6 separate regions of the Homo sapiens genome follow, and regions 1, 2, 3, 4 and 5 are each linked to region 6. The links come from fine-mapping of genetic effects on gene expression. A gene starts in region 6. Each other region holds a variant in brackets. All regions are shown on one strand. Distances are between the middles of the regions. Region 1 overlaps TMEM63C (transmembrane protein 63C). Region 2 holds the start of LOC124903351 (a long non-coding RNA gene). Region 3 overlaps POMT2 (protein O-mannosyltransferase 2). Region 4 overlaps TMEM63C (transmembrane protein 63C). Region 5 overlaps TMEM63C (transmembrane protein 63C). Region 6 holds the start of TMEM63C (transmembrane protein 63C).

Evidence for each region. PIP is the estimated chance that this variant, and not a neighbour inherited with it, causes the effect. A credible set is the group of variants that fine-mapping cannot tell apart.
Region 1: its variant is the best candidate, but not a certain one, in a credible set for the expression of TMEM63C in whole blood (TOPMed, PIP 0.85).
Region 2: its variant is the best candidate, but not a certain one, in a credible set for the expression of TMEM63C in whole blood (INTERVAL, PIP 0.72).
Region 3: its variant is the best candidate, but not a certain one, in a credible set for the expression of TMEM63C in whole blood (INTERVAL, PIP 0.61).
Region 4: its variant is the best candidate, but not a certain one, in a credible set for the expression of TMEM63C in whole blood (TOPMed, PIP 0.71).
Region 5: its variant is the best candidate, but not a certain one, in a credible set for the expression of TMEM63C in left ventricle (GTEx, PIP 0.87).

What each region holds. Positions count from the first base shown.
Region 1 is chr14:77,204,788-77,209,872 of GRCh38, reverse strand. The region is part of intron 1 of TMEM63C (transmembrane protein 63C); the gene reads right to left. Among named protein-coding and RNA genes, the nearest start is that of TMEM63C, 26 kb to the right of the region's middle. The variant G/C (reference allele first, on the strand shown) is at 2,401.
Region 2 is chr14:77,258,000-77,262,999 of GRCh38, reverse strand. TMEM63C (transmembrane protein 63C) reads right to left here. Exons shown (of 24, transcript NM_020431.4): 24 at 3,505-5,000. LOC124903351 (a long non-coding RNA gene) reads right to left here and starts at 3,181. Exons shown (of 2, transcript XR_007064276.1): 1 at 1,858-3,181. The variant G/A (reference allele first, on the strand shown) is at 2,895.
Region 3 is chr14:77,280,814-77,285,898 of GRCh38, reverse strand. It overlaps POMT2 (protein O-mannosyltransferase 2), which reads left to right. Exons shown (of 21, transcript NM_013382.7): 13 at 267-418; 14 at 858-949; 15 at 2,026-2,102. Among named protein-coding and RNA genes, the nearest start is that of NGB, 12 kb to the right of the region's middle. The variant C/T (reference allele first, on the strand shown) is at 2,368.
Region 4 is chr14:77,236,355-77,241,439 of GRCh38, reverse strand. TMEM63C (transmembrane protein 63C) reads right to left here. Exons shown (of 24, transcript NM_020431.4): 9 at 4,708-4,816; 10 at 2,673-2,746; 11 at 1,948-2,028; 12 at 1,714-1,837; 13 at 832-965. Among named protein-coding and RNA genes, the nearest start is that of MIR1260A, 27 kb to the left of the region's middle. The variant T/G (reference allele first, on the strand shown) is at 2,372.
Region 5 is chr14:77,225,732-77,230,816 of GRCh38, reverse strand. All of the region lies in intron 6 of TMEM63C (transmembrane protein 63C), which reads right to left. Among named protein-coding and RNA genes, the nearest start is that of MIR1260A, 38 kb to the left of the region's middle. The variant C/A (reference allele first, on the strand shown) is at 3,027.
Region 6 is chr14:77,178,886-77,183,970 of GRCh38, reverse strand. It overlaps TMEM63C (transmembrane protein 63C), which reads right to left and starts at 2,173. Exons shown (of 24, transcript NM_020431.4): 1 at 2,077-2,173. RefSeq lists an enhancer at 1,723-1,852.

The DNA of each region.
Region 1 (5,085 bases), 26 kb before region 6:
GCTCTGGTATTCCTCCCATTACCCTAGAGGCCACTGGCCTGGCTACTTCCTCATGGTACCCTCTGTTCTGCCCCACTAGCCCCCTTATTCAGAGTTGCTTGCCCCACCCCTACACAGCTTGAGCCACTTCCTCCTGGACTTGGGTGAGCCTTGGTCTCATCAGCATTTAAAGCCCCTGAGTCCAGCTTATATTGTACTCCTCTGAACCCTCTTTCAGATTACCAGCCCTGTCTGAACCTTGTTCCCACCCTCTTTACACAGCTGGCCTTGCAACCACTGCCTGGGACCATCCTCTCATTTTCCCATGCACGTGAGCAGCCAGCTTACCAACAAATCCATGGGCTCTTTGATAGTAGGGACCATATCTTTCTCTTATACTTTTCATGGTTCTCCCAAAGACCATCACGTAGTAGGCCTCAATGAGAGACAGAAGGCCCTTTACCCAGAGACACACTCAAGGGTAGGAAAGAATAAAATGTAGGTGGTTTGTACACATTTGCACAGTGCACAGAGTACATGAATCCCAAATTTTTGCCCCCACATAGCGCACATTGGCTACCAAGTTTCCCTCCAGCAGTCGCTGCAGGGAGTGGAGGGAGCATACAGCTGCAGGTAAGGAGACTGGGTGTGAATCTGGCTCTATTGTTTATCAGCTGCTAGTTAACCTCTTGCTATTCAGTTTTTTCTTAAAGATCATATCTGTCCTGCCTATACCAGGGTGATTATGAGTGTTAGTTAAAGGGCATAGTGCATGGAGACTCTTTCTGTAAACTGTGCCACAAACTAAGTTGTTGCTTTTGCTGTCCTCTTCATAGGATCGAAGCCAGCCTTCCCCGAGAGGTCCCCAAACGTCCCTCCGCTGCAGTCACTCCTGAAGCCTCAGCATGGGGTGAGAGGATTGCAGTTCCACCTTCCATTGGGCCCACGATGCAAGCAGAGCAATGATCCCGCTGCCCCTGGCTGGGTCCAGCTGGGCTCTCAGCACCATGGACAGCACCATGCTGGGCAAAGGCATTTCTGCTTCTGCTGCTCTCTGCCAGGGCTCGTGGGCAGGGCCAGGCAATTCTCGCTGCTGCCCCAGCCCAAGAATAAGAATAACAGCTAACACTTATTGAGTGAGTTCTATATGCCAGGCCCTGTGCCAAGTCTCTTCAGGTGTCGACTGGGTTAAACCTATCAGGTTGCATATGGGACACGGTTGATACCCTCAGCATCCATTCCCACCTCTGTGCCTTCCTATATTGCAGAAGCTGGAAAGTTAAAAGGTACATTTCCAACACTCCCTTGCAGCTGGGGTTCTGGATACAGATTAGAGCTCTTCAATTAGACATGCTGGAGATAGATTTACAAGGCTGAAGGGAGGAGAGGGAGGAGGAGGCGATCTCCCTGGTGCTCAGGCCGTGTTCTGCTGACAAGCCATGCCGAGGACAGGAAGGGATTCTCTGCAGGAAGTTCAATGCCCAGTCTCTGGCTCCCAGGGAGGGGGTGGTGTGAGAGGCAATTGTGGCAAAAGCTGCAGCAGTTTTCTCATCCCTAGATAGCAGGTGAAAGGACGTGAACTCTGTGGCTCCAGTAATGGCCCTCCTGACTGGGTGAGGAGTAATTTGTCTGGAGGGACAGTTCTGCTCTGTTCTGAAGACCCAGCTTCTAATTCTTCCAGTGATTTCGAGACCCTGCGATTCCCTGTATGAATCAAGCTGACTACAGCATCATGTCCCAGTCCTGGTTTTGCTTAAGATTCCTAGAGTGTTTTTTGTTTCCTGTACAAAGACCAGGCAGGTTCTATTATTATCCCATCTTATGAATGAGGAATTTCAGGCCCAGAGAGGTTAAAAGACTTGCCCAGATCAGGGAGTTAGTACCGTGAAGTTAGGGCCTGAGCTGGGGGGCTGGTTCCACAGCCCCCTCCTGATCACTTTGCTATGTGCCACCCTCGAGGCAGAGAACGCTGATTCCAACAAGCAGGAATGAAGCTGCTAGGCTCAAGACAGAAGTACACTGAAAAAAGGAAAGGCTGATAGAGAATACTGGAACCACACTCCAGGCTCCTATGGGTGTAGCCCCTGAGGGGGCCTCAGGAGAAGAAAGGGGCAGGAAAGGACATGGGCATTTGTGATGGGCCAGGCCTTCTTATGGCTATCCCACTGAACATCGTTTATTCCTCACAAGCAACATGAGAGGTAGCAGCCTAAGAAGTAAGAGTCAGTATCCCCATCTTACACGTACAGAAACTGAGGCTCAGAGAGGTTAAGTAACTGGCCTAAAGTTACACAGCTGGAGAGAGACAAAGGCAGGATTAGAATCTAAGTGTCTGCCTCCACTACATCACGCAGCCTCCGAAGGCACAAGCCTTTGAAGGAACAGAGCAGCTTTGCCCAATTCCAGGAGGACTGTATTTCT[G/C]GGGTACAGGAGGATGGCCTCCCACATCTGTACTACATCTAAGGGACTCTCAGCTAAAGAGAAGGACCAGGCAGCTTCTATTTTTATCCCATCTTATGAATGAGGAATTTCAGGCCCAGAGAGGTTAAGAAACTTATCCTCTTAACACCTCTGTGGGTGGCAGATGGAGTTGGGACGCCATCAGGGGAGAAGGTGGCCACTTGGACTCAGGCTGGAAGCTGAGTGTGTTGGCTTCCCCACCCCATCCATCTCACCTCTGGGACCCCCACAGAGATGCCTCTCCTTGCCAGGAAGTTTCTTTTCCTTGTCCTCCAGACCCTGGACCCCAACCCATGGCTTTCTGCCTATGCCCCTGAGTAAGTGAGCAGCCATGATGGTGCCCAGGGGGTGCTGGAGACAGAAGGCAGAGGCAGCTGTGGGGCTGTCACAGTCACCCAGGCCCCTGGGAGCTGGGCAGTGACTCAGGGAGACACGGGGAGGAGGACAGGTGACTTCATGCCTGTGTTAAAAAGGTAAAATAGGAAATAAAAACAGCAGGATACAATGCTGTTAAATGAAATGATCTGGATTCTAAAAAAAAATAAAAGAAAAAAACTAAAATTATATCACATTCTTTTAACAGTCCTTAACATTTTTTTCTGAGTTTGAAAAACTATTTAATATGAACATGTATTGTTGCTTCTAATTAGAAAAAGATCATATATTAAAAGGAAGGCTTGAGATTGACAGATATCCATGTAATCAAGCTTTCCTCCTGCATCAAATCCCTCTTCCCTTCCTCAAATGCCCTCATTCTGATCAGCTCCCACTCAGACTTGTTGATGGGGAGGAGAGGGTGGAGGGACTGAGCTCTCACAGTGACATGCAGCCCAGTGGTTCCTGTGCAGGCTGCCTACTCAGAAAGAAGAATCAAAGCCTGAATCCAATGCCATCTCCTCTCTCTCCCCTGTCAGGGCCTGGCTGGGCCATGGGCAGGCAGATCAAGAAGCCAAGGTGGTGCATCATCGAAGCCAAAGTGGCCACCAGGTCCCTGGGCGTCTGCCTGAAAGCCAGAGGCAAGCCTCCCTCCCTGCTCCACCCCAGGTCAGTGGCTCCTCCTGACAGCAGTGGTACTGTGCTGACTACAGCATCAAGTCCCAGGGGCAGAGATCAGGAAGAGGACTTGGAGGCCTCCCTGGCACAGCTCTCACTAGGGCAGGCAGGGGCAGCCTCCCCAGCCCCCTGCCCTGCCCCTCCCACCTCCCCACCCCCTCAATGGATCAGTGGAAGATGGTAGCTACTGAGGCCCCTCTAGTCATTTTTTGGGGTGGTCTAAACCTAGACTCCTATAGGGAAGAGAACAAAAGAGAAATGGTAGCCTCCAGGAGGTAGGGGGCGGGGTCCTGAATGGGCCTGGCCTCTGGATTACCTCTGAGCCTGACGGAGGGCCTATGTGCACTCTCCTCCAGGTGACAAAGTATGTTTACAAAGTCATCTCACCTGGCCCCCAACAGTCCTGCCAGAGAAGAGGTGGCAACTGTCCCCATTTACAAATGAGGATGCTGAGGCCCAGAGTGGGTGTGTAGCCTGCCCAGGGTCATACAGCTAGCAGCTGAACAGCAGGGGTGGAGATCTAAAGCCAAGGCCCGAGCTTCTGCACAGCTCCCTGCTCCTTTTGACATCTGAGCTCTCTGCTCCTGGCCTGCTCCTGGGCAGAGGCTGGGACCAGGGGAGGCCCTCTTGGCCCCAGGAGCCCCTCCAGTCTCACCTCCCCCAGCTCCCCACGAGGAATCTCAGCTCCAGCCGATGGAAGGCCCCTTGCCCATCAAAGGCCTTGGTTGTCTCTGCCCCCTCCATTCCTCCCCTCTGTGGAGGACCTTGATCCTCCCCCAACGGGAATGCTCCATTGGCAAGGCCCAGTTCAACTCTGCTTTCTTCAGGGAGCCTTCTGGGTACACCCCCTGGTCTTGCTGATCTCACCCTCCCTTCCATCCTACTGTTCTCACTTATTCTTTCCTGAGTTCTCTACTGGATAGGGGTTGCTAAAGAGGATGAGATGTGTTCCTCCCCTCCTCAAGCTCATTCTAGGTGAATGAGAAAGGCCTTGGCTGAAAGGCAGTGATAACGCAGTGTGAGAAGGGCTCACAGATGAACCGAACCCAATCTGCAGTGCCTGGGGAGGCCTCCTGGACCAGGCTGTGATGGAATCAGCTAGAAGGGCTTTCTTCGCTCTCCTTAACTTGGCCAGCAAGGCCTGGGTGTGGGGCCCTGCCTAGTGTTCTGGCTTCATCATGTCAAACTTCCCCCTCACTTCCATCTCCAGCCTCCTAGGTTGTTCCCTCAGTTCCTGGAGCATGCCACCTTCCCTCCTGCCACAGGGCCTTTGCATATGCCAGTCCCACCACCTGGAAGGTTCTCTCTCCCATTACTTGATTCATTCTCCCCCTGGTTAATCTCAGCTCCATTTTTGCTTCCTTAGGGAAGAGCTCAGGCCAGGCCCAGCTCCCCAAGTCCTGTGCCTCTGAGCATCTTGGGAGGCAGGCATCATGTATGCAGCAAATGTGGATTTCTAGTACTAGACTCTCTGGGCCCAAGTTCTGCCTCTGCTACTTACTAGCCCCATGTCTTTGGGCAAGCTTCTTAACCTCCCTATGCCTCAGTTTCCTTGTCTGTAAAATGGAGATGTTAATAGCACCTACTTATTGG
Region 2 (5,000 bases), 79 kb before region 6:
CCTTTTTCTTCCCAGCTTTCTCCACCTCAAACCAGAGTGTGCTGAGTTGTTCATGCTGAAGATCTGGGAGTCATCCTTGCGTTCCTGCTTTCCCTCAGACCCCACATCTAATCATCCATGAATCCTCAACCTCTGTTCCAAGTTTAACTGCTTCTTTATTCACTCCCTATCCTGGTGCAAGCTACCATATTCTCTCTCCTGAATGCCTCTGACACAGTCCCAACTGGGCTTTTTTTTTTTTTTTTTTTAGACAGGATCTCACTCTGTTGCCCAGGCTGAAGTGTGGTGGCATGATCATTGCTCACTGCAGCCTTGAAATCCTGGGTTCAAGGAATCCTCCTGCCTCAGTCTCCCGAGTAGTTGGGACTCCAGGTGCATGCCACCATGCCCAGCTAATTTTTAAAATTTTTGTGGAGATAGGGTCTTGCTTTGTTGCCCAGGCTGGTCTCAAGCCCCTGGCCCCAAGTAATCCTCTCACCTCAGCCTCCCAAAATGCTGGGATTACAGGTGTGCACCACCACACCTGGCCCCAGCTGGGCTTTCTGCTTCTACTTGTCCTACCCTGGTGACAGTGACCATTTCAGCACATAAGAGTTACATGGGTGGTGGCCAGGGGCTAAGGGGAGGAGGGAATGAGGAATTATTGATTATGGGTATACAGTCTCAGTTTTGCAAGATAAAGAGTTGTGGAGGATGGCTGGTGGTAATGGTTGCACATTACGAATGTATTTCATGCCACTGAACAGGACAGTTACAAATGGTTAAGATGGTGGCCGGGCGCGGTGGCTCACGCCTATAATCCTAGCACTTTGGGAGGCCAAGGTGGGCGGATTGCTTGAGGTCAGGAGTTCGAGACCAGCCTGGCCAATATGGTGAAACCCCATCTCTACTAAAAAATACAAAAATGATGATGGCATATGCCTGTAATCCCAGCTACTTGGGAGGCTGAAGAAGGAGAATTGCTTGAACCTGGGAGGCGGAGGTTGCACTGCACCCAGATCACGCCATTGCACTCCAGCCTGGGTGACAGAGCAAGACTCTGTCTCAACAACAACAACAAAACAAACAAACAAAAAACCCATAAATGGTTAAGATGGTGAATATGATTATGTGTACTTTACCACCACCACCACAACAAAAAAACCTGGAAAACAAACACATAAGGGGATCATACTCCTACCCAGAATCCTCCCATAGTTTCTCAGATGATGAGTGAAACTTGGAGTCCCAGCGTGGCCTGCACAGCCTGTTGCCCACTCAGACCTCGCCCCACCCTCTCCTCCCCTCGCTCACTCTGCCTGGTTCTTTGGGCTCCGCATGTGTGCCCACAGACCCTTTGCTGGCTCTCATGTCTCACCTCCACAGAGCTTGTGCTGGCCTCTCTAGTGCAAAGCATCCTCTCCCCACCTACAGGCACCCCTTGCCCCTATCCGGCTTTGTCTCTCCCTGACACCCCATTATGTAGGCCTATTTGTTTACTGCACTTGTCACGTTCTGTTGCACGGAAATGGGCAGGCGGTCATGGAAGCCACTGGGCTCTGTGTTTGGAGGGGAGGGAAGAGGGACAGTCTTTGAACCCTTGCTGAAGATGACAAGGTAGCCAGAAGTGCCCCTGACACCTGGTGTGTGGCCCTCGGGCCCACATGGTACTCATACTTATTGCAAAAGAAGATAAAGATGGCAGAAGCGTGCCTGAGCTAGGGAGTTGTCATTTCTAAGCTGGCGATGGTGAGATGCTGAGGCCACCCAGGGCATGCAGTGCCTGAGGTTGGGACTGTTTTCCTTATCCACTCACCCCTCCCTGCACACTGGAATCACCTGGGGGACTTTTGTAAAATACAGGGTACTGGGCCCCACCTGAGAAATTTTGGTTTTTCAGGGATGGGGCCTGGACATTGAGAGTGACTCTCCTTTGCAGCTGGGCTGGAGAACCTTGGGAATTGAGGCTGAGAGCTGCCGGGCTGCCACTTGTCCAGGCCGAGGGACTGTCAGATGTTCTGAAAGCAGCCTCTGTTCAGAAAGCCTGGGAACCTGTCTCCCCATAGACCAGGCTCTCCTCGCCTCTGCAAGGCCTTCCACAGAGCAGACCTAGAAACCTGGAATCTGGCCAGCAAGGAGGTTCCTCAGGACAGAAGTGAGCTGCCTCAGGCTTCCCTGGCGGGGCCCCGTGCAGCCCCAGGCTTGGTTTCTGGGCAGAGGCATGGGGCACTCTCAGGCCCCGCTGCTTCCTCCCTGCGCAGCACTCGGTCACGTGCTCCAATCCTTTCTTGGGCACAGCCCAGTGGAGCCAGCCTCCTGGGGCTCCCTCTTGCCCTGCCCCAGTCCCGTCCCCAGCCCAGGTAAATCCACCTTCAGGCCTCCGGTCCATCCTGGCCTGCTGAGTGGAGAGAGGATTGACCAACACTAACCTCCCTGGAGGACATTCCATCCTTGGGGAGACCGCCCTCCCTCTTCGGCTTGTTTTTCTGTCTCTTTCTCAGTCTCTGCCTGATAAAAGGCCCTCGAAAGGTCTGCTGAACCACAGAGTGTCCCAGGCCTGCCATCTGGGGACCCTGGAGCTGCCGGCCCCTGGGAGGGGACCATGAGAGGCAGCAGCAGGGCGCAGCCCCGTCCCGTCCAGTCAGGGAGTCTTCATGGCTTCTCTCCTGCGAAGCAGCCCTTGTGGATTTTAAGGGCTGACTTGACTTGGAAAATAATTGTTTTGAGGGGGAGAGGGGACAAGTGGACGGGTCTTGATCCCACGCCCAGGCCCACACCTTGGTAGACTTTGAGTCAGTGGCCACTGATGGACCGTAGAAGTTTGCGGAGAGGACCCAGCGAGGATGATGCAGGAAAGAGTCCTTAGGCAGCCACCCTGAGACTGTCATCCTCTGTCCCCATAGGGAGCACTGCGG[G/A]AGGAAGTCTCCCCCTACTCAACACACCCACAAGATTCCCATCTTCTGCCCTCAAATCTGCTCTGCTCAGTCACGAAGCAGAACAGTCCGCTTCATGTCCTCCCAGCCCTACTGTCTGGATGAGGTGACCAGCCTGGGTCATGCAGCTGCTGGAGGAAGGGACAGAACCAGTCTCCTGACCCTGAGATGTGTCCGCCAGGGCAGGGAACTGTTGTCTCCTTGCCACAGTTATAACAGCCTTTGCTAACGGGTGTTTCTTATCCCACCTGGCTGCCCCACACACTTCCCTCGTGCCAACCTCTCCTCCACCCAACCTCTCCTCCACCTCCCCCATCCCCCAAGTCCCCCACCCTCATCCTCTTGCAGACCTGAGCCCTGTCTGCCGCTCTTCCTGGGGCCTCACCTGAAATCTGTGTGTTTTGAAGTCTGGCCACTAGCCTAGCCCAGTGGCCTGCTCATGGGGCTCAGCACTCACCAGAGACTTCTGCTGCTCCTCGGGGCTGCCCTGCTGGCTTCCTGGGTAGCTCAAGGACCAGAAAGTTCTCTCCACTGCACAGCGGAGCAAGGCCAGGCTGGCCCAGATGCACAGGCAGAGAGGCAGGGGCCAGGAGAGGTTGGGAGGACTTGTTTATTCAAGGCACGGTCATAGCATTAACAAGAAGGTTCAGCATTCTGGCACATTCCTTTTGTGGTGGTGGCCAAGGTTAGCCCACACCCCCTCCCCCCCGACCGGGGGCCCCAGAGGACGCAACGCTGCTGATAGGCACTTTGCTTCCAGGGGCAGTGGAGGGTCAGGCAGGTGGGCATGGGGCCACTGGAGGCCTGAGGAGGGCCCCTCCTGGAGGCTCTAGGCAATACCGGTTCCTGGGCGGCAGCTCCTTCCAGAAAGGATTAAGTCAGGAGGTGATTTGGTGGATGGAGTGGGGTGGGGCGGCTGGGAAGTGGCTGGCAGAGGAGTGGGATGGCAGTAGGTGGGGGGAGGGGGGCAATGGGTGAGGCAGGTGTGGGCTGAGGCAGGAGGTGCCTGAGAGGGCCTGGATGTGGTGGCGGGGGGAGGCTAAAAGATGCCCCCTGCTCCACCATCCTGTAGTGACCATGGGAGGTCCAGATGGAGCCAACTGCCATGAGGCTTTGCTGGTTCCCCTAAGAGTGGACTATGGAACCTTCTCCACATGCTCACCACCTTCTCTCAGAGCCAGGCTACACTGGACCCAGGTTCAGAGGGAGAAGCCCCCAGTCATCCCGCCACATTGTCTGCCAGGACTTTTCCCATATGTGGCTTCCACAGTCCGGCAGGGGCTGCAGGGGCTGGGGGCAGGGGCCAGGGAGCTGTGTCCAGCAAAGAAGAGACCCCAGGCCAGCTTCTGGTGTGACCCCCCACACCCCATACACCAAATACACATGATGGGGTCGGGCAGGGCCTGGAGCTGGCCACCTCCCCATCATGTGCCAAGCTCCTGCTGGGCCTGACCGCTATGCTGTAACAGCGTACTTTCCCCTTGTTGGTTGGTGAAATTCCAGTGGGGAGGGGGCCTGTGGGACCTGGGTGTGTAGGGGCCAGGCTAGGACCATTTCCCCTTTATTCCTAGCTGGACAAGGAATGGGAAAGACAGCCTCTCTCCAGCCAACCCAAGCTCTCTGGAAAGACACCCTCATGCCAAAATGTGGGCCATGCCCTGGGGGTATAGCAGTTTCTGCCCATTGAGCACAATTTCTCACCTGCGGTGAAGCTTGGAGCTTCTGGGGCTAGGATGGGGCAAAGGTGGGGCAGGGACAAGGTCTAGGTGATCTGAGTTCAGGGCAGCCATGTGCCTGGGGCCTGGTGCAGGTGCTCAGGTGAGGTGAGCCGGGGGCCGGCCTTCAGTAGGTTGGTGGCAGGGACCCAGACCTTTGGGGGAGGGGGCTGAAGAGGGCCCTGGAGCACACAGACCCCATTCAGCTTGGCTTGTTCTGGTTCATTGAGGCCCCCACTGGCCCTTCTCATGTCCTCCCTGGCTGGGCTGCACGGTGGTCCTGATGAGAGCCCATCCCAGAGGCAGAAGCCGGTTCCCCCCGGCTGTGGCAAAGGTGCTGAGTGTCACCATCACTGTTCGGAATTCAGCTCCC
Region 3 (5,085 bases), 100 kb before region 6:
ATGAAGTGAAGAGTTGGACTCCTGGACTTCTGGTTCCAGGAGTCATACTACTGTTTTTTGGTTGTAATAGTGAGTTTTGGGACAATGCCAATCACCTGGGATATTTCTTTGGCCTTCTTGTAACCTTGCCCATCTCTATCATTGAGCCTAATTTGGTCTTTGACCTTCATAACATGGTGGCATCTGGGTGGCCATTTCCCTTTCTGACACGTTTTCTCTAAAGTCCCCTCACTTTCTTTGTATTTTTTTCTTGGCTTTTATGGCAGAATGGAACAGGGGACTCAAATGATTTCTGGCGGATTGAGGTCGTAAACAGGAAATTTGGAAACCGGATCAAAGTGCTGAGAAGTCGAATTCGCTTCATCCATTTGGTCACAGGTTGTGTCCTGGGCTCCTCGGGAAAGGTTCTGCCCAAGTGGTAAGTCTCTAGGGTTTTGCTGTCCCAATCGAGGGTCCTGATTTTCCTTTCACTCTACAAGGAGTATGCCAGAAGCTTTTGTTTTCCTGTGTTCACCTGCTGTCTGCTTGTTCTTAGTGGCAGATGGAGGGAGAGTAGATATCAGGTGTATTATGGAGCACAGAACTCCGGGGGAGCTTCGGTGTTTTATGTGTTCTGATAGTTCAACATTTTCACATCTGGCTGGTGCTAATAACTCTCTGGGTCTATGTCTTTTTCTAAAATGGGAATACTGTATGCTAGACTATCCTAGGATAGTTGTCCAACATGGAACATGAAGAAATAATGGCCACCATGTGGAAAAGAGAAGGAGCCTGTGGATTTAAGAGCAGAAGACAGTGTCACTCTCTGGTGGATTTCACGTCTTCTGAGAGACATCTGTGACTTCTGCTTTTCACAGGGGCTGGGAGCAGTTGGAAGTTACTTGCACCCCATACCTGAAAGAAACCCTCAACTCCATCTGGAATGTGGAGGACCATATCAATCCCAAGTGTGAGTGAGGTCACTTTCTGGGCTGGCTCTGGAGGGAAGCATTTATAAGAAACCCTTATCTTAGAAAAGTAAGCGTTTGTAAACTGTGCTATCCCTTCAACTTGCTGCTGTTTGTTCCTTGTTAACACTCTCTTTCTATGAGTTGTCTGTACCTACATAGCATACTCCTTTTCCTTCTCATCCACTCCCTCCGTAAACTCCTCTCCCTAAAGTGGCCAGTGGCCATCTGCAGATCCATCTGTCTCGTCTTCCTCTGGGCTCCTCTCTCCCCTGCACCATGGGCACCTCCCCAGCCTCCAGGCTTGGAGCAAGCTGCTACTTTCCCTTTATGCCTCAGTGTAGAGTCGCTCCCCCGCCCCCCCACATATCCAGCCAATGCTTTTATAGAAAGTGACTGCCACAGCCCTGATCTGTGCCCCACATCTCTACACCCAAGCTCCAATTTGATATTTCCACTGCGTTGTCAGCTTCAACTCAATAAGTATTTGGATTCATCATCTGTTTTCCTAAACTACCCACCTCAAGCTTATGTGTGCCTTCATTTTGTTCTTCTTCCCACCTAATCTAGCCAAACCCACTAATCAACTAATTCAACAACTCTTTATCAAGTATGCCAGGAACCACATGGGGCCCTGTGGACATATTGGCGAGGAGACAGACTTGGTCCCCATCCCGACAGCAGCTGCTCCAGGCGTCCAGAATGATTTATTCCTCATTCCCAGGCCCTTCAAAGGGCCACAGTGACTCGGGGGCTGTGCAGCTGTCCCTTATGCCTAATAGGAGAGCAGCATTTGAGCCAGTACCACAGTGAAAAGCAATGGTGCTGGGAGCTGTTGGAGCACCAAGCAGGTGAAACCTTGTTGTCTATTTCCTTTGCATTTCTTAGAATGCCTGATGAGTTCTTCATACAGCTAAGTAAATGATCAAGAATTGGGCCAAGCTTTCTTCTGTCTCCTCAACAGTTGTGAACTTGTCAGCAAGGCTGCATTTGGATTCTGGTGGGAATGTGGACACCATGGACAGACTGAGGAAAGAATGTATGACAAAGGCTTTTCTCCTGCATTTTTTTCCCCTAGTGCCAAACATCAGCCTGGATGTGCTACAGCCCAGTTTTCCTGAGATCTTGCTGGAATCCCACATGGTCATGATCCGGGTATGTGTCCCCTTCTCATTTCATGGCGTCTCTAAGAGCTTTTGGGCAGCCATGAATTTGGATCACAAGTCAATGCCATGCTACAGATCCATTCCCCCTTGTGGAGGAATTTGAAAGCATCTTTACTACGGTTTTCTGTGATCCTCAAAGGCATTTCCCTCACCACAGAATGAGGATGGTGGTGATGATGGTGATACCAGTGACTGCTTGTACAGCTCATGTGCCAGGCACTACGCTAAGCACTATACTCATCTGATACTTATTA[C/T]AATCATATGGAGGTTGCCATCATTCCCAGTTACAGGAGAGGGAACTGACATACAAAGAGGTCAGGGAACTTGCCCAGGGTCACACAGCTAAGTGTAAGAGGTAGATCCAGCCCTCAGAGCCAGGCTGGTAGGCTTTTAGAGTTACTGCTAGTTACCACTACACTCCTTCACCTCTAAGTGATTTGTGAATCTGCCCAAGTGGCAGAGCCCCTGAAAATCATAGTGCTCTTGGTTGAAGATCATGAGATACTGATAGTTCATTCCATCATATGAAATCAGGATCAGTTAGGATGGATAGCTAATTTGAGTGTGTTGTTTATATGCAGCATGAAATCCCAGCCACGAGCCCACTCATATTCCTGGACAGAAACTGCTTAGGCAGGGCATGATTGATTCTTTTTAAGGTTTTCTAAGACATTGTTTGCACTCTCTATCATTAGTAGCTGACAGCAGTTGTAGCATCAAAGGTTTAAGAAAAATTCAGAGAAGAAATCTTTAAATTGAGAAAATTCTACTCACTAGCTTAAATTTTCCCCTGCTGTAGTCCTGCTGTTTAGTGGAAGACCCCCTTATTCTGGCTTATGGAAAACCTGTGTTCTGCAGGAATAATGTTTAAGAATCACTATCTCAAGCCAGATATGTGATTATCACTCTACCCACAGCATTGCAGGGAGGTGTAGCACTTGTTATTTTTCCCCTGGTAAGCCATTGTCAAGTGGACTTCCCTGGAAGTGATTATGTAAGCAGTACTCAGTACATATAGTTGACTTATTTCACCAGATTAAATTTTAAAAATTCAAATTTTGTCATTTTTGCGCATTGGGAGGTGATAAGTTGACATTAAGCATCTCTGGGTCACTTCCTTTCTGACTCTCTGCTTGTAGCTGTCACTGTGGCCTGATGACATAGCTCTTTTGAACATGTGCCTGTCAGTCAGAATATCATTCTGGGCCTGGGTCAAATTTTAAGACTAAATCTACGAGTTTCATTTTGTCTTTCATTATCTAAGAAGTAGAGTCAGAGAAGAAAAGGGAAGTAATGAGAGCTTTCTTATTCAGCCAACAAAGAGTCAGGGAGGGGAGAGAGATGAAAACAGTGAGTCCAGACTATAGAAACTGCAGGGGCAGGGCTCTTCCGCTGGCTGAGTAGTGGCCCGGGACCTGGAGGAGAAGGCTGCCTTGCCTGGTGCAGTTACAGGAATGAGCCCATCCAGATTTCAGCCATAGAGAACAACTTACAAGTACATATGCCTGTGATGGTTGCAGATTTTTCTTTCCTCTTTTAGTTTAGCAACAGAGCAGGATTTCTCAGAGTTTAATGTAGTGAATAAGATTCCCTTGGCTTGGTACAGTTCTGGCTGGAGTCCTTGGGTTTGGGACCAAACTGTACAATTTGAAGGAATTGGTTTCCCTCAGCAACTGCCGCAGGGGTCCAGAATGATTCATTCCTCATTCCCAGGTCCTTCAAAGGGCCGCAGTGACGCTGGGGCCGTGCAGCTGTCCCCTTTGTGTCTGATGCCCTGGATGCACTTTTGACCTTGGAGGCACAACCTCTCCACCATGTAGAGGCCTGTAAACTATTCCCAGCCCCTTGCTGAACTGGATTCATAAGGCACTGGGTGGCAGTCCACTGAACTTTCTGGGTCTTTCTTAGGCTATACCAGTGGTTCTTAATTGAGGGTGATTTTGCCTCTCGGGACTTTTGGCCATCTGTGGAGAAATTTTTGGCTGGGAAACTGAGGGGTTGAGGGTAGGAGTGCTACGGGCATTCAGTGAGTGGAGGCCAGGAATGCTAAACACTCTGCAATGCACGGGACAGTCCTCACAGCAAAGACTCATCCAGCCCGAAATGTTGGGAGTGCTGAGGTGGAGAAGCTCCGGCCTAAGTCATGGCAGCTGACTCCCCTTCTGGGGAAATGCCTTTTCAGTCTGTCCCAGTGATAAGGCAGAACCCAGTCCTAGTGGTTAATATCCTGGATCCTGACCCTACTCCTTCCTGTTTTAGCAAAGACCTGGTTTGCCCTGTAGAGAAAGGTTAGCAGATGTTCTTGGCTGCTGGATTAGGGAGGCTGAGTCTGGGTCCTTCAAACCAAAGCATGCATTAGGGTTGATTTCTCTCCCAATAGATGAAATGTGTTCTTGGAGGGCAAAATATCTAATTTTTTATGTATAAAGCACAAGTAAGATGTACAGTATAAAGTATTAAAATGTCATGGAGTGTGTTTAGGGAGAAACTTGTCTACAAAGGCTCCTGGTAGAGGGGCAGTAGTGGAAAAAAAAGGTGGAGAAGCACTAAGCTAAAGCAACCTCTTCCAAGTCTAGGCACGCATGAGAGTTTCTGCTTTTCTGTTTGAAATTGGCCCCTGAAGGGAACAAATAAGTAAGCCTTATTATTTATTTATTTATTTATTTATTTATTTATTTATTTATTTATTTTGAGACTGAGTCTTGGTCTTTTTGCCTAGGTTGGAGTGCAATGGCATGATCTCAGCTCACTGCAACCTCCGCCTCTTGGGTTCAAGTGGTTCTCCTGCCTCAGCCTCCCAAGTGGCTGGGATTACAGGCACCCACCGCTACGCTCAGCTAATTTTTTGTATTTTTTAGTAAAGACGGGGTTTTACCATGTTGGCCAGGCTGGTCTTGAACTCCTGACCTCAGGTGATCCACCCGCCTCGGCCTCCCAAAGTGCTGGGGTTACAGGCATGAGCCACTGCACCC
Region 4 (5,085 bases), 57 kb before region 6:
ATCCTTCTGGAACATTCCAGAGTGGACTGAATTCACTCCTTGTCAACGCATGGGCTGCCAGAGGCTGGGGCAGAGAAGAGAGGGGACTGTAGAGCTATGAATTAGGGGAGGCCTGCGGCAGGAGAAGGGCAAACAGAGCTGCTCTATCCTGACGCTCTCTTATGGTGAGGAGGGAGTGATGTGTGTGTCAGCTGGGCGCAGTGGCTCACACCTGTAATCCCAGCACTTTGGGAGACTGAGGTGGGCAGATCACCTGAGGTCAGGAGTTCGAGACCAGCCTGGCCAACATGGTGAAACCCCGTCTCTACTAAAAATACAAACATTAGCCGGGCATGGTGGCAGGCACCTGTAATCCCAGCTACTTGGGAGGCTGAGGCAGGAGAATCGCTTGAACCTGGGAGGCAGAGGTCGTAGTGAGCTGAGATTGTGCCATTGCACTCCAGCCTGGGTGACAGAGCGAGACTCTCTCAAAAAAAGAAAAAAAAAAAAAAAGAAAAAAAAAAAAAAAGAAAAAGGGAAAAGGGATGTCATTCTTGTCAAGGGCAGAAGAGGGACCATGAGGTCAAAGGCTTCTCTGACCACCTCTGTGCTAAAGCAAGGACAGGGAGTGAGGAGCCCCGGCCTGGGCACCCCTTGAGAGCAGCTGGGCCCCAGCAGCTGGGGGAAGCAGGTATGGCCATCTCATCCACTGGAGAGCCAGATGGCAGCTGCCTGTGACGAGCATGGAGGGCCCAGGGGAGGCAGAAGGGGAAACTGGAGGTGGAGAGGGAGGAGAGTGCCGAGAAGCAGGAGTATGCTTGGGGCTGGGTGGGGCGCCTGCCTGGTGCTCACCGCTTGGCCATCCTGGAGTCCTGGAAGGTGACAAAGATCAGGTCCAGCCGCTTGAGCGGCACGCGGTTGAGCTCGGCGTTGAACTCGTCCGTTAGCTGCTCCTCTAGCTCGCTGTAATACTGCTCTGCATCCACCTGGGGTGGCAGGCAGCCTTCAGGGCTGGGGCCAGAGCCCCAGGAAGGCCTCCCTGGTCACGAGGTTCCTCCCCACTCAAGCCTCCCTGGATTGTGGTGGCCTTGAAGCACCTCAAGGAGCCCAGGACCCTGGCTGGCCTCCAAAGTCCCACCTCTAGAACAAGAAGAGGCGATGACTGCCATTCACCCCTGCCCTTAGATCTGGGGAAAGTGAGGCATAGCTAGGGGTACCCGGGGGCTTTCAGGCTTGGGGTGGACCCCAGAGAGGTGAGAGAATGTGTTTGCCGCATTTCCACGAGAGAGGGTGAATCTCTGGGCTGGCAGAAGTTCGGCATGGTCCTGAAGCAGGTGTCTGAGTCTCGACGCCCTCTTTGAGCCACAGTGGTCAGGTGATAAGACAAGCTGTTGCCTTCAAATGTTTCTGTCCTATCTCTTTGGGAGCCTGAGGCCTGGCAGCCTCGTGTAGCCTGCTGTGTTTTCTCTGGTCCTTCTCTCTCATTCTCCCATCCAAGACCAGAAAGGAGACAGCAGCAAGCTTCCCTGGATTGTTCTGAAGGTGGCCTCCAGAAAGGCTCCCATCTCAACAGGGAGGCAGGACATGGTGGATGGGGAGGAAGGAGCTGGGTGGGGAGCACTAGAGCAGACCTGAGTGAGGCCTGGGGCCCAACAGTGCGGGCAAAGGCACAGAGCCTAGAGCCCCAGGACCCCACCGCTCCCTTGCTGTGCTCCCAACGCTCAAGCCAGTTACCTCCTTGAAGCAGGTCCAGCACTTGCAGAAGCACAGGCGGGCACAGGGGTGGATCCTGATCATCACCTTCCCAGTCTTCTTGGCCTTGGCTGTATAGAAAAGCCGGCCCCGCATGGCATGGCGCCTGCCAGCGGTGGGCAACAGGAGAAGGACCTGCAGGTCAGGGGCCAGCAGAGCCCCATCCTCCCCTTTTACCCCCACCCCGGGCCCCAAAAGGCCCCGCTGCAGCCTCACCTCTGATCGTCCAAGTCGATCAGGTTCCTGACGTCGTAGCAGAAGTGGACTCTTGTCACGACACTGCCTGGATAGGCCTCGCTGCAGCCACAAACATGGGTGCTGAGTCGGCCTGTGGGGTTGGGGATGTGCTGCCCCTACCCCCTGCCCAGCATGTCGGCCCTGAGGGCTGGGTGGCTCAGCTGCCTGGTGTTCCTGGATGGGATACTCCATCTCTGCTCCTAAAGCTGAACCTCAGGGTTTGAACCTTGGCAATCTGAGAGCTGCCAAATCCTTCCTACACAACTCAGAACAGGGCAAAAGGGCGGAGCTCCACCCACTGGGGAACCCAGGAGACAGCTGTTCACGAAGAGATAATTAGCTCAGTGAACAGTGTCCTTGGGGCTGGGAACTTGGGGTCACAAAGGATGTCTCCAGATGATCT[T/G]CTCTAAATAGCTGTGATCCAAGGTTCCCTGTGCTCAGTAGTTGAAGCAACAGGAGAAAGAAAAATTCCCATCACCCATATCACAGCCATGCCATGCAGGAAGTCCCTGACTTCAGACACCCTGCTCCAGCTCCAGCGGCCCTCCCCATTCTAAAAAGCTGATCCTGAGCTGAGTCCAGGGAGAGCCACCCCGGGGTGTCCCAGTCCCACCATCCTGCACCAACTCACTACCCACTTGAGGACCCAGGCGGGGTTATGGGGAGGAAGCAATCCACGCCTTGGCCTACCCCAACCCACTTACTGAAAATGCTTAATGATGAGTTCTGGGTCTTCAATGTCCTTGGGCACATAGGTGATCATTAGTGTCCTTGTGACCTGGGTGGGAAAAATAAAAATGGAGAAAGAAGACTGTGCTTGCATAGGAATTCCAGACACCTCAGTCTTTTGGTGGCTCAGAGCAGGCCTTCTGCTCACAGCAGGCTGCTGATGCCAGTGCCTCCTTGCTGAGAGAGCCAAGAAAGCCAGAGCCAAGCTGGGACACTGTGGGCCAAGGAAGTGCCAGCTGCCTTAGCCCACAGCGTCCCAGCTGAGCCAGGCAGCTCTGAGGTTGGTCAACTGTGCTTCCGTTCTCCTCTGTGCCCAGCTGTGGGTGCCCTGCTCCGGACTGCTGTGGTGAAGGGAGGAAGGACTGGAAAGCTGCCATCAGGCTGGGGTGGAGGATCAGAGCTCCATGATTGGAAAGAGCTGCCAGAGCGACCCCACAGTGATTTCTGCTCTCCCTGTAGCTTCCACTGTTCCAGCGTAAAGCCTCACATCTCTAGGGAAATCCCTCACGTGAGACTGGGCCGGGGAGTTGGGAAGTAAACAAGACTCTGGGGAGAGGGTAGGGAAGCTTCCCTAAACTTCACACTTTATTCTGTGAATGGGAAATATCTTCCTGGGTCGTCACCTTTAAGATGACAGTCTGGTAATTGTGCTGCAAGAATCAGGGGTCTTGAAAGAGGCTTCTGGTGACAAGAAGGAAAGCTGAAGTAGCAGACACCAGACTGGTCAAGGGTGACCAAGCCTCCATGCCTGGCAGGCTGAAGCATTTGGGTTCACTTTTCAGGGAATGTGGATTTGCACTCTGGGGTGGGTTCAAGTGAATCAGTCCTTTTGAATGGACGGCCTGGAAGGAGCTGATTCCACACCACTGAACCTTTGAAAGGCTGAGGACGGGAACTAAGGATGCTCCTCACTCTTGCCCATCCCCAGCAGAGCATGGGTGCTGGTCCAGATGGGTGGCACTGCTGGTGCCTGCCCGTGGCCCCCCGTCAGTCATCTCTGCACACCAACACCTGCAGCATGCTTCAAATACTGCGACTGCTCTTTCCCGGCCTTGGGGCATGTTCAGCTTTTGTGCAGGGCCAAGTAGGGGAGGAGTTAAAGCCCCCAAGCGCAACCCTCAATGAACGGTGGACAGGGAGCTGGTGGAAAATACCCACGATTGCTCACCTCCAGGAAAATTCTGGGGCATGTGCTCTACACCAGCTCCCAGAGTTCCCTGGTCATGAAGCTCCACTTGCCCACAGGGGTAAGTTGCCCCTCCATGCTCCCTTTTTTTGGTTGCCTTTGCATCCTCACTCCCTTACTGGCCTTTCCTGGGATCACCTCCCATAAACAAGCGCTACTCATTCCAAGTCTCAGGGTCTGCTTGGATGGGGTCACCCAAACTGAGACGGTGGGGATACACGGGGGTCTCTGATCTCCGAGAGACTGCAGAAGGGCGAGGCACGGGCCTAGCAGGGGTGGGCAGGGCCAGGTACACTAAGTAGCAGCAGCTCAGCAGGGCCCAGACCACTTAGCATGGAGGCCCCCGCTGGTCCACTGGGCCTTGTTAATCCTTTAGTTTTCAGATGGTGGGAAGTCCAAGAGTCCCTGGGGAGGGGCGGGGCAGCAGAGGGGCAGGGATAGGAGGTACCTGGGCAGCAGCTATTTACCAACCAGTCTGAAAGTTTCATTAGGGGTGAGAGGATGGAGGGTGAGAGGGTGAGAGGGTGGAGGAGCGTGAGAGGGTGGAGCAGCGTGGAGGAGGGTGAGAGGGTGGAGGAGCGTGAGAGGGTGGAGCAGCGTGGAGGAGGGTGAGAGGGTGGAGAAGGGTGAGAGGTGGGGGCCAGGTGATTGTTACTAGGACTGAAGGGAGGAAGCTTGGCCCCTGCTCAGGTGAAACCGCCCCCTCCCATCTATCACAGTCTCCCTGGACCCTCTGAGGGCTTCTCTGAGGGTTGGAAGTGGTCAGCCCAGTGGGGAGGGACCCCAGCTTCCCACAGTGGGAAGCAGCTTTGTAGGCTACTTACCTTTTGGCTATTCCTGGGTGCAAACCCCAGGCAGTGATGAGCCATGAACATGAAGTTGGTGATGAAGTAGAAGAAGGACAGCAGGCTATGCAGCCACAGGAGCTTGCTCCTGCAGGGAGGGAGGCAGCAGCAGTGAGGTCAGCCTGTGAGCTCCCCAGAGCCCACTGCACAGAGACCCCTGGGCCTCCTCCTACCCTCAGTCTCCTGGGGCCCCCCAGCCCATCACAGTCTCCTCAGACCCCCACAACCATCCAAGTCTCCCCAGACCCCAACCCATTACAGTATCCCCCACCCCCACCCATCACAGTCTCCCTAGACTCCCCCTACCATCACAGTCTCCCCATACCCCCCCACCAGTCTGCCCATACCCCCCACCCA
Region 5 (5,085 bases), 47 kb before region 6:
TAGACAGCAGTGGTCCCTAACCTTTTTGGCACCAGGGACCAGTTTTGTGGAAGACAATTTTTTCCATGGACCTGGGTGTGGGGTGGTGGGGGGGCAGATAATTTTGGGATGAAACTGTTCTACCTCAGATCATCAGGCATTAGTTAGAGTCTCATAAGGAGCAGGCAGCCTAGATCCCTCATATGTGCAGTTCACAATAGGATTTGTGCTCCTATGAGAAGCTCATGCCGCCGCTGATCTGACAGGAGGCAGAGCTCAGGTGTAATGCTCGCTCACCTCCTGCTGCGGGGCCAGGTTCCTAACAGGTATCGATCTGTGGCCTGGAGGTTGGGGACCCCTGTTACACAGCAATAAAAATGAATGACCCATAGCTGAACCTCACAAACACAATGCTGAGTAAAAGTTACCAGGCACAAACAACACATACTGTGTGGTTTCAAACATAAAGTTCAGCTATAGGCAATACTGAGCTATAGAGTTAGAATGGGATGGGGATGAAGGTTGGGGGACAGGAAGAGAGCTGCTGGGTATTGGCGATGTTCTAGTTGTGGATCAGGATGATGGTGGCACAGCCTTAGCTTTGTGATGACTGAGCTGTACATTTTTTTTTTTTTTGAGACAGAGTCTTGCTCTGTTGCCCAGGCTGGAGGGCAGTGGCACGATCTTGGCTCACTGCAACCTCCTCCTCCCGGGTTCAAGTGATTCTCCTGCCTCAGCCTCCCGAGCAGCTGGGACTATAGGTGTGCGCCACCACGCCCAGCTAATTTTTTGTATTTTTTAGTAGAGACGGGGTTTCACCATGTTGACCAGGATGATCTTGATCTCTTGAGCTCAGGGGATCCGCCTGCCTCGGCCTCCCAAAGTGCTTGGATTACAGGCGTGAGCCACCATGCCGGGCCGAGCTGTACATTTTTTGGTGTGCACTTTTCCATGTGCATGCTATACTTCAATTTAAACAATTTAAAAGCAACAAGTGCTCATAGAAACTTTGGAAAATATGAAAAAGAAGTAAATAATTCATCTACAATCTCATTGAACCTAAGACAATGATTAAAAAGCATTTGTGGCTGGGCATGGTGGATTGCGCCTGTAATCCCGGTACTTTGGGAGGCAGAGACAGGTGGATTGCTTGAGCCCAGCAGTTCGAGACCAGCCTGGGCAACATGGTGAAACCCCATCTCTACTATATATATATATATATATTAGCTGGGTGTGGTAGCATGTGCCTGTAGTCCCAGCTACTCTGGAGGCTGAGGTAGGAGGATCGCTTGAGCCTGGGAGGTTGAGGCTACAGTGAGCCAATATCATGCCACTGCACTCCAGCCTGGGTGACCTGGGGAACAGAGCAAGACCCTGTCTCAAAATAATAATAATGATAATAATAAGCATTTGGACTTAATTTTTGTTTGTTTGTTTGTTTTGAGACAGAGTCTCACTCTATAGCTCCGGCTGGAGTGCGTGACATGATCTTGGCTCACTGCAACCTCTGTCTCCCAGATTCAAGTGATTCTCCTGCCTCAGCCTCCCAAATAGCTGGGATTACAGGTGTGTACTCAGCCAAATTTTTGTATTTTTAGTAGAGACGGAGTTTCACCATGTTGGCCAGGTTGGTCTCAAACTCCTGATCTCAAATGATCTGCCCGCTTTGGCCTCCCAAAGTGCTGGGATTACAGGTGTGAGCCACCATGCCCAACCTCCTTTATTTTCTTGTTGTGTTCATTTTACTTGGTGATTATAGTTATAAAAAGCATTTGATGCACTGCTCTTTTGCTTGGCATTTAATCTCAAGCATTTTCCGATGGTTTTACGTAATGGTGACAGTGGCCTCTGTTGATGGAGCACTGGTTCATGCTCAGCACCATGCAGGCCTCCCCACTCCACTGGTGGACACACCATGGTTTACCCACCCCTGCCCCCTTGTCAGGATTGTAGGTTGTATGCAAAACTAGCATCCAGTCTGGGATTCAGATTTATTTTTAAGGCCGGGTGCAGTGGCTTATGCCTGTAATCCCAGCACTTTGGGGGGCCAAGATGGGCAGATCACTTGAGATCAGGAGTTCAAGACCAGCCTGGCCAACGTGGTGAAGCCCTGTCTCTACTAAAAATATAAAAATTAGCCAGGCATGGTGGCACGTGCCTGTAATCCCAGCTACTTGGGAGGCTGAGGCAGGAAAATTGTTTGAACGTGGGAGGCGGAGGTTGCAGTGAGCTGAGATCGTACCACTGCCCTCCAGCCTGGGCGACAGAGTGAGACTCCGTCTTAAAAAAAAAAAAAAGATTTATTTTTAAACAATACTACAAAAGGCACACCTTCAAGGTTTTCAATGTTCTCATTTGAGGAATTATTTAGAGCTCTTGATTTTTTAACTTTGAGCGGCTAAACGTTTCCCTCCCTGGACTTGAGAATGAAATGCCAGAAGTGGAATGGATGAGAACTTCTGGAGAGCGGGGGAAGGTCCTCTTGCACTGCCTGAGGCGGGGTGAGGTCCAGGAGCCTCCAATCAGGTGGAGAGAGCAGAGGGCTGGACAGGACTGGATGGCACTGAGAGCACTAGAATTCTCTTCCTGGGCCAGGAATTCCTGCCTCCACCACTAGGCCTGTTTCCTTTCTCCATCTTTCTTGTAAGTGCCCCACCCTGACCTTCCAGCCAATCGCCCTTCTTCCTACTCACAATTAATTCTCTGTCTCTGCTCTCATTGCTTCCCTTCCTTCCACCTCTTTCTGAAGACGTGCTGGATCCATTGTTCTGCTCTCTCATCTTCGGCATCCTCCTCTCTCTGCATGCACCTGCGTCCACCCACACCTCTTCCCTGTAAACTACAACCAGGCTCAAGTGCTTGTTGGTTCCTCTGTAATAAAACAGCTCCTCAAGGATCCACTCTCTGATCTGTTCCCTGACCTGTTTTCCCTCCTCCTTCCAGTAGCTTCACTTCCCTCCTTCCATGCACCTCTGGAAAAAGGTGACCTTCCTTCTCTGCCTCTGTGTCTTGGACATCCTATCCTCGGCCTGCCCTCCCAACAGAGA[C/A]CCAACTCACCAAAGTCAATGTCCTTTCCTCAACCCCCATTCTACTCCACCTCTGTAGCACTAGAGGTTTCTGGGTCGCCCCACCCTAGAGGGGAGCCTTGTCCTGGCCTGGCTTCACTGAGTCCAGCCCAGAGGATGCCTCTTCCTCCCGCCTCGATGAGGCACTCCCTTGGGCCGCTTCTGGTCTTACATCCTTGGATGACCCATCTGCTCCCATGACTTCAACTACAGCCTCCATGCACCATCTCCCAAGTTGAAATCTCTAACTCTGACCTTTCTCCTAGGCTTCAATCTTGTTTTTTCAACAGCTCCTTTGTCAGCTTGCATACTTGCCCTGACTACATCTCATCATTTTGTGTTTCCTCTCCCACCTAATGGCATTACTACCCTCCCCAGAAACCAGACCTCAATTTCTCCCTCTTTCTTAACTAGGCCACAACCTACTGACTGTAGCCTTATGATCTCCCTCCCATCTTCCCCTCCCATTGTTTCTCTAGTCACTGCCCCGGTTCAGGTCACTAGCACCTCCCACCTCGACCATTGGAATAGCCTCCTTAACTGCTCACCTTGACTTTGGACTTTCTCTAATGCCATTCACTCTCCATACTTCTGCCTACACACATATATTGTTCTGAGTTTCCAGCTTAAAAATACTAATTGGCTCTCTACTGTCTCTAGATGAAAGCCCAAGATTCTCAGTATGCCAGCCAAGGTCCCAGCTGAGGCCCAGTGCGGTGGCTCATGCCTGTAATCCCAGCACTTTAAGAGACTGAGGCAGGTGGATCACCTCAGGTCAGGAGTTTGAGGCCAGCCTGGCCAACATGGTGAAACCCCGTCTCTACTAAAAATACAAAAATTAGCTGGACATGGTGGCACGTGCCTCTAATCCCAGCTACTCGGGAGGCTGAGGCAGGAGAATTGCTTGAACCCAGGAGGCGGAGGTTGCAGTGAGCTGAGATTGTGCCACTGCACATCACCCTGGTGACAGAGAGATATTCTGTCTCAAAAAAAAAAAAAAAAAAATCCCAACTGATCCTTCCAGCCCAATCTTTTACCCTCCCCCGCCACACTTACCATGAAACCTTGCTTCTAGTCACACCAGATTTACCATGTCTGTGCACACCCTACTCATCTCTGCAACAAACTGGCTCACACGGTCCTTTACTTCTGATGTGCCCTCCACATCCCACATCGCGCCTGTCGAAACTCTTCCTGTCCTCCAATGCCCAGCTCAAAACTATACTTTTCCAGTTGGAATTAATTTCTCTCTTCCCCACATGCCGTCTGCACAGCAATTATAACCCTCCCATTCTGAATGCTACGAAGGGAGTCTTGTTCACCTTTGTTTCTCCAACCAGACCGCATGGGTTTGTGCACGGGGACGCTACTTGACTTATTGCTGCTCAGTAAACGCATTAAGCTGTCTTCTATGACACTGCTCTCAAGAGCTGCTGGATGCACGGTGCAATGCCCTGCCTTCCTGCTTTCCCAGATGCTGGGTCCCTGACAGAGGGGCCTCTGTGATAGGAGTCTTTGGGTAGGGGTGGGGTGGAGGGGTTTAAAGGATGGGCAGGACAGGACAGGTGGAGCACACTGAGGGAGAGCCCATGAGTGTGTGGGGTCTGAGGTGGAGGCAGAGCTGTGTGCACACGTGTACGTGTGTGTGCGTGTATGTATGAGTGTGCATGTGTGTATGCCTACGCAGTGGGAACATAGAGTTCCGGTAAGTGTCTGCTCTGCTGAAGCGTCTGGCTGGTGTTGGGGAATCAGGAGAAAACACGTAACTTGAGGTCAGCTTGCAGGAGAAAACAGGTGACTTGGGGGCTGCTTGCTTGCAAAGTGGGGTCTGGCATTCAAGAAACCCACAAGGTGAGGTGGGCAAGGGCTGCCCCTCTGCTCTCCAGGCACTGAGGCCGAGCGAGGCCTGCCCTTCTGCCCGATGTTTGCTTGGGCAGAAGGGCGAACACATGATATGTTGAATGATGTTCACAGAAATCAAGCAGATAGCACAAAGGAAGGGTTTCTTTTTCCTGGTGTGGAGTTCACAGAAGCATTTCTA
Region 6 (5,085 bases):
TTAAGTCTGGTTCTCACCACGGGGCCTCTCTGAGGCCTGACCCTTTCTCTGCTAGCTGGGAGGGACACATACCATGTGGTTTCCCTCCAGTATGGTGGGCCCTCTCCTCTCTGGTGCTATATTGTCACCCCACAAGCAGCTAGTTCTCATCTGGTTTACTGGGAACCCCATCCCTTCCCACAGGTCACCCCAGCAGCTCCTGGTGGTCATCATGCAACCCAAGGCTCCTGTGAAGCCAGCAGGGGCCAGCGTCAGGGGTTCTGTGCTCAGAGGGTGTCTGAAAAGGAGCAATTCATGAGCCAGGCACATGGCAACTCCTTTCACTTGGAGTAAACCGGTGCTGGCCCAAACCCCCGATCCGGAGATGCTGTCAGGGAGATAAATGAAGTCCCTCTACCTGTGGATCCCCACTCCCTGGCTATGCTCACAGCTGCTGGCACTCGGGCAGGAGGGATGCCTGTTTTTGGCTCCGATAGGCCCACAGAAATTGTGTATCCCTGTGGGGGCATGATGGGAAGGTAACCAAGAGACTTCACTTCCCGTCTTCAAGCTGCTTCCTTCCCAAGAAACTAGAAAACATATCTTAAAGGAGGAGAAAATGCTGGTGCTGTTCCCTGTCACCGACCTCCTCCACACCCATCAGGAGGCCCTTGCAGCCTCAGCTTCTCAGCGCTGGGACTGTGGGGTGCGAAGAGAAGACAGGAAGAGGCCCCTCCAGTCTGCCCTTTGGTGGCTGGGGAGTCAGAAGACCTGCATGTAGGTAAGATACCTGGAGAACTCACTCCACCCTCTGTGCCTCAGTTTCCTCATCTGGCTCTGGCTCTAAAATGTCGCTCTCTCCTTGCCTCAGTTTCCCTCCAGGGAAGGTCATCTGTCCCAGGGAGAAGAACAAGGTGAATTCACTTCTAAGGGGAAAGTTCACTTCTAAGGGCAATAGACGGAATGTAGCCCATTTCTCCCAGGGACAGGGGCCGGAGAGAGAACAAGGATAAGGTGATAACAGAGGGTGGTGCTAAGAGATGGACCCTTTCTTGAGGGAAAACACATCTTCCTGGAGCGCTGCAGGCTGTTGAAGGAGAAAGTTCATCTCCTCATTCCCATCAGCACGGGCCTTCCTCTCCTCAAAGCCAACTCTCATTCTTTCCTTGAACCCACAAGAACAGCACACGCTCACACCCCCTCTGCTCACTTAGGTGTTTTTCATGAGCAATTTTCTCCTGTCCCCAGACAATCTAATTGCTGCTTACACCCATGATACCCTGGAGCCCCATGCGGAAGTTGCAACTCCCTGCATTCTCAGGGATGAGGAAATGGGGTGCTGGGGTGGGGGGAGGTCCTGGGGTCTAGAGAGGAAGAAGGGCCCCTGCCCCTCCAGAGGGCATTCGGTGAAGGCAGTGCCTGGGAGGCCAGCTCTGTAGGGCCTGCTCAGTGACCTTGGTCAAGCCACAGCACCCCTGGGCCTCAGTTTCCCCAGGGCCTTCATCCAAACACAACGTTCCTCTCTCAAGGCCAGGGCGAGTAGGGAGGCAAGAGCCTTTCTTTGGAAGCACATGGGGAAAGGGTGGCATTGTTCCCCTGGGGGCCCAGGAGCCCAGCCCGCCAGGCAGCAGCGCAGCAGTGACGTTGTCATAACCCATAACGGCGGAGCAGACTGCCCCCTCCCGTCCCAGCCCAGAGAGTGGGCGGCAGAGCCCCGGGGAATCCCTGGGTGGGGGAGAGGGTAGCCCCGAGCGGTAACTCCCACCTGGCTGTCAGGCAGGAGGCCGGGGACCCCCCAAGCAAACCTCCTACCCACCTCCGTTCCCCCAACCCAGTGAAGACCGGTCTACTAAAGCCACGCCCTCCCGGGTGGGCGGCTCAGGCCACCCTTTCCTGGGTACAAGCTAGAGACAGCCAGCGTGGCAAGGGACTGTGGCGCAGTCTCCCCTACCCCCATCCCTCCCAATGCAAGGTCTCAGAAAGCACAGAAACAAGCAATCCTTCCCCGCCCCCTCCCCGTGCGGGACCTGGATCCGGCGCCCCTTCTTCCCGGCCCGACCAGCCCCGGTCACCGCACCCGCATCGCGTGCTCACCACATTTGCGTCCTCAGCACCGCGGCCCCAGCCCCAGGCTCGGCGCTCAGGCCGCCAGGCTGCAGTGACAGGCTCCACGCTCCCCACCTGGGAGGAGACTGCCAGCGGGTCCTCCTCCTCGCCGGCTGGGCGAAGCCAGCCCCACCTGGCAAGGGACTGTCAGCAAATTCCTCTCTGCATCACTGTGAGAGAGGCATCCCGGCTCCTCCCAAGCAGGGGCCAACCTTGGCCCCGCCCCAAAGCTTCTCTGACCTGCCGGGGAACCCAGGCTGGCAGATCCTACGCGAAGACCCAGGCTCCGCCTCAGAGACCCTGTCGCTACCAGGAACCATCTGCAAATTACTATCTCAAACACACAAGGCTGCCGGTCCCTGGTTCCAGCTTGCTCCAGCTGCCCTGATGCATTGGGCCTTGGCAGCTCCTTTGCCACCTCCCCTCGCCCTCCCTGAGGCATGTCGCCTTTCCCAGTCTCCTTAGTCCCATCAGCCAGAAGCAAGAAAAGCCACTCCACTCCCACAAAGATAGCCCTCTGCCCCGCCCAAGGACCAGGTCCTGGCACCAGCCTAGTGGCTGGTACCCAGCTGCTACCCAGACTCCTTCTACAGCAAAGGAGTGATCTACAATTGGCCACAGCCCCACCAGGGAGGGCCAAGGGAGTGAGCTGGGTCATTTCCGGTTTGCGGTGGGCCACAATCCTGCAGGTATCAGAGTTTCATCAAAGTCCTGCCCACTCTGCTATAGACACTGGTTTTGACCCCGAGGACAGGTGCCAGTGTTTGCAACCCCCAAAGACCAGTGTGCAAAACAAGGGGCAGTAGTAAACAGCCTCTCCCTCCCAGGCAGGGGCCTAGGCACATTTATGTCATCGACATTATCTGGCACTTGCAGTACAATAGCTGATGGGAAAGAAGCCACTGCCCAATGCTCTCTGAAAGTGACTCCCTTTCACCAGTTAGGGCTGTTAACAATATGATAAGAATGCCATAGAGGAAGCCCTGTGAACACAAGGTCATGAGGTGCCAGAGGAGGGGGTCAAAGGCTGGTTATGCTTTCATGGGTTGATTTCCCCATAACCAGCAGCACAGCACCCCCTTCCACACAACCGTATCAGGCTGGCGCACTCTAGTCATCTCCCTCTTCCCCTGACCCCCTGGTTCTCATGACCCAACCACCCCACGAAGACCCAAGGGTGAGCCACATAGACAGACTCTGTCGAAGTCTATCCATTATCCACTCACTCGCCCAGGCTGGAGTGCAGTGGTGTGATCTCGGCTCACTGCAAGCTCCGCCTCCCAGGTTCACGCCATTCTCCTGCCTCAGCCTCCCGAGTAGCTGGGACTACAAGCTCCCGCCACCACGCCCGGATAATTTTTTTTTTTTGTATTTTTTAGTAGAGACGGGGTTTCACCGCGTTAGCCAGAATTGTCTCGATCTCCTGACCTCGTGATTCGCCCGCCTCAGCCTCCCAAAGTGCTGGGATTACAGGCGTGAGCCACCGCGCCGGCCCACTCATTATCTTTTTCATTCACGGGACGGGAAGACTTTTGAACACGTATTCTGCAGTGGCAACAGGGCATCAGGGTCTAGGTTCCAGCCCTTGCTTAGCGGCTATCATGCTGTGCAACCTTGGGTAGCTCACTTGATCTCTCTTTGTTTTTCCCTCTCATCTGTAATTCTGAGAGGGCTGGGCTAGTTGAGGTCTCACACCCCTCTGCTCTGACACCTTTATTCTCTTCTAGGATAAAGGCTGGCGGGTACAAAGACAAATCAGATCAATACAAGAATAGTGCTGGGAACGCTAGCTGCCTGCATTTCAGTCCCAGCTGGGCCACCTAAATGTGGGACTTAACCTCTCTGTGCTTTTTTTTTTTTTTGGCATATGGAAAATGGGGGAAAACAATAATCATAAGCTTAAAGGGTGATTGTGAGGATTAAATGAAATACCATGTACAAAATAAATGCTCTGCAAATATTCATTGTTGTTGCTGTAGTTATGCTATTCACAGTCTGGTGGGACAGCATAAATTCTCAACAAAAGCAGTTCGTCTTTTCCTTCTCTGCTTCATCATCACAGAAGCTGTTGTAAGCCCATATCCAACCCACTCCACCTCCTAGAGGAGAAACCTGATAAGCATCAAGGTCATGCCGTAAAGAGAGGCCAGGTGTGGTGGCTCACGCCTATAATCCTAACAGTTTGGGAGGCTGAGGCGGGCAGATGACTTGAGGTTGGGAGTTCGAGACCAGCCTGGCCAATGTGATGAAACCCAGTCTCAACCAAAAATACAAAAATTAGTCGGGGGTGGTGGCGGGCACCTGCAATCCCAGCTACTTGGGAGGCTGAGGCAGGAGAATCACTTGAACCCAGGAGACGGAGGTTGCAGTGAGCTGAGATCATACCACTGCACTCCAGCTGGGCGACAGAGTGAGACTCCGTCTTGAAAAAAAAAGAAAGATACAGTAAAGGGGGACGGAAGCCAGGTGTGGTAGCTCACACCTGTAATCCCAGCTACCTGGGAGGCTGAGGCAGGAGGACTTCTTGAGGCCAGGAGGTTGAGACAAGCCTGGGCAATATAGAGAGACCTACATCGGAGAGGAGAGGAGGGGAGGGGAGGGCAGGAGAGGGAAGGGGAGGGGAGGGGAGGGGAAGAGAGGAGAGGAGAAAGAAAGAAAAAGAAAGAAAGAAAGAAAGAAAGAAAGAAAGAAAGAAAGAAAGAAAGAAAGAAAGAAAGAAAGAAAAAGAAAGAAAGGAAGGAAGGAAGGAAGGAAAGAAGGAAGGAAGGGGAAGGGAAGGAAGGGAGGGAGGGAGGGAGGGAAGGGAAGGAAGGGAGGAGAACCCATGGAAGGAGGAGAACCCATGGAGATGCCAGGTGGGCTGTGTGGTGGGGAAAGAGATGACCCCAATGTCCCAACCAACCACCTAGATGAGTGTCAGCTTGTAGAAGGTTCTCAGTAAAGGTGTATGGGTATGAATAACTGAGGCTTTCAAAAGAAAGGCCCTTCTGGTCTGTGACA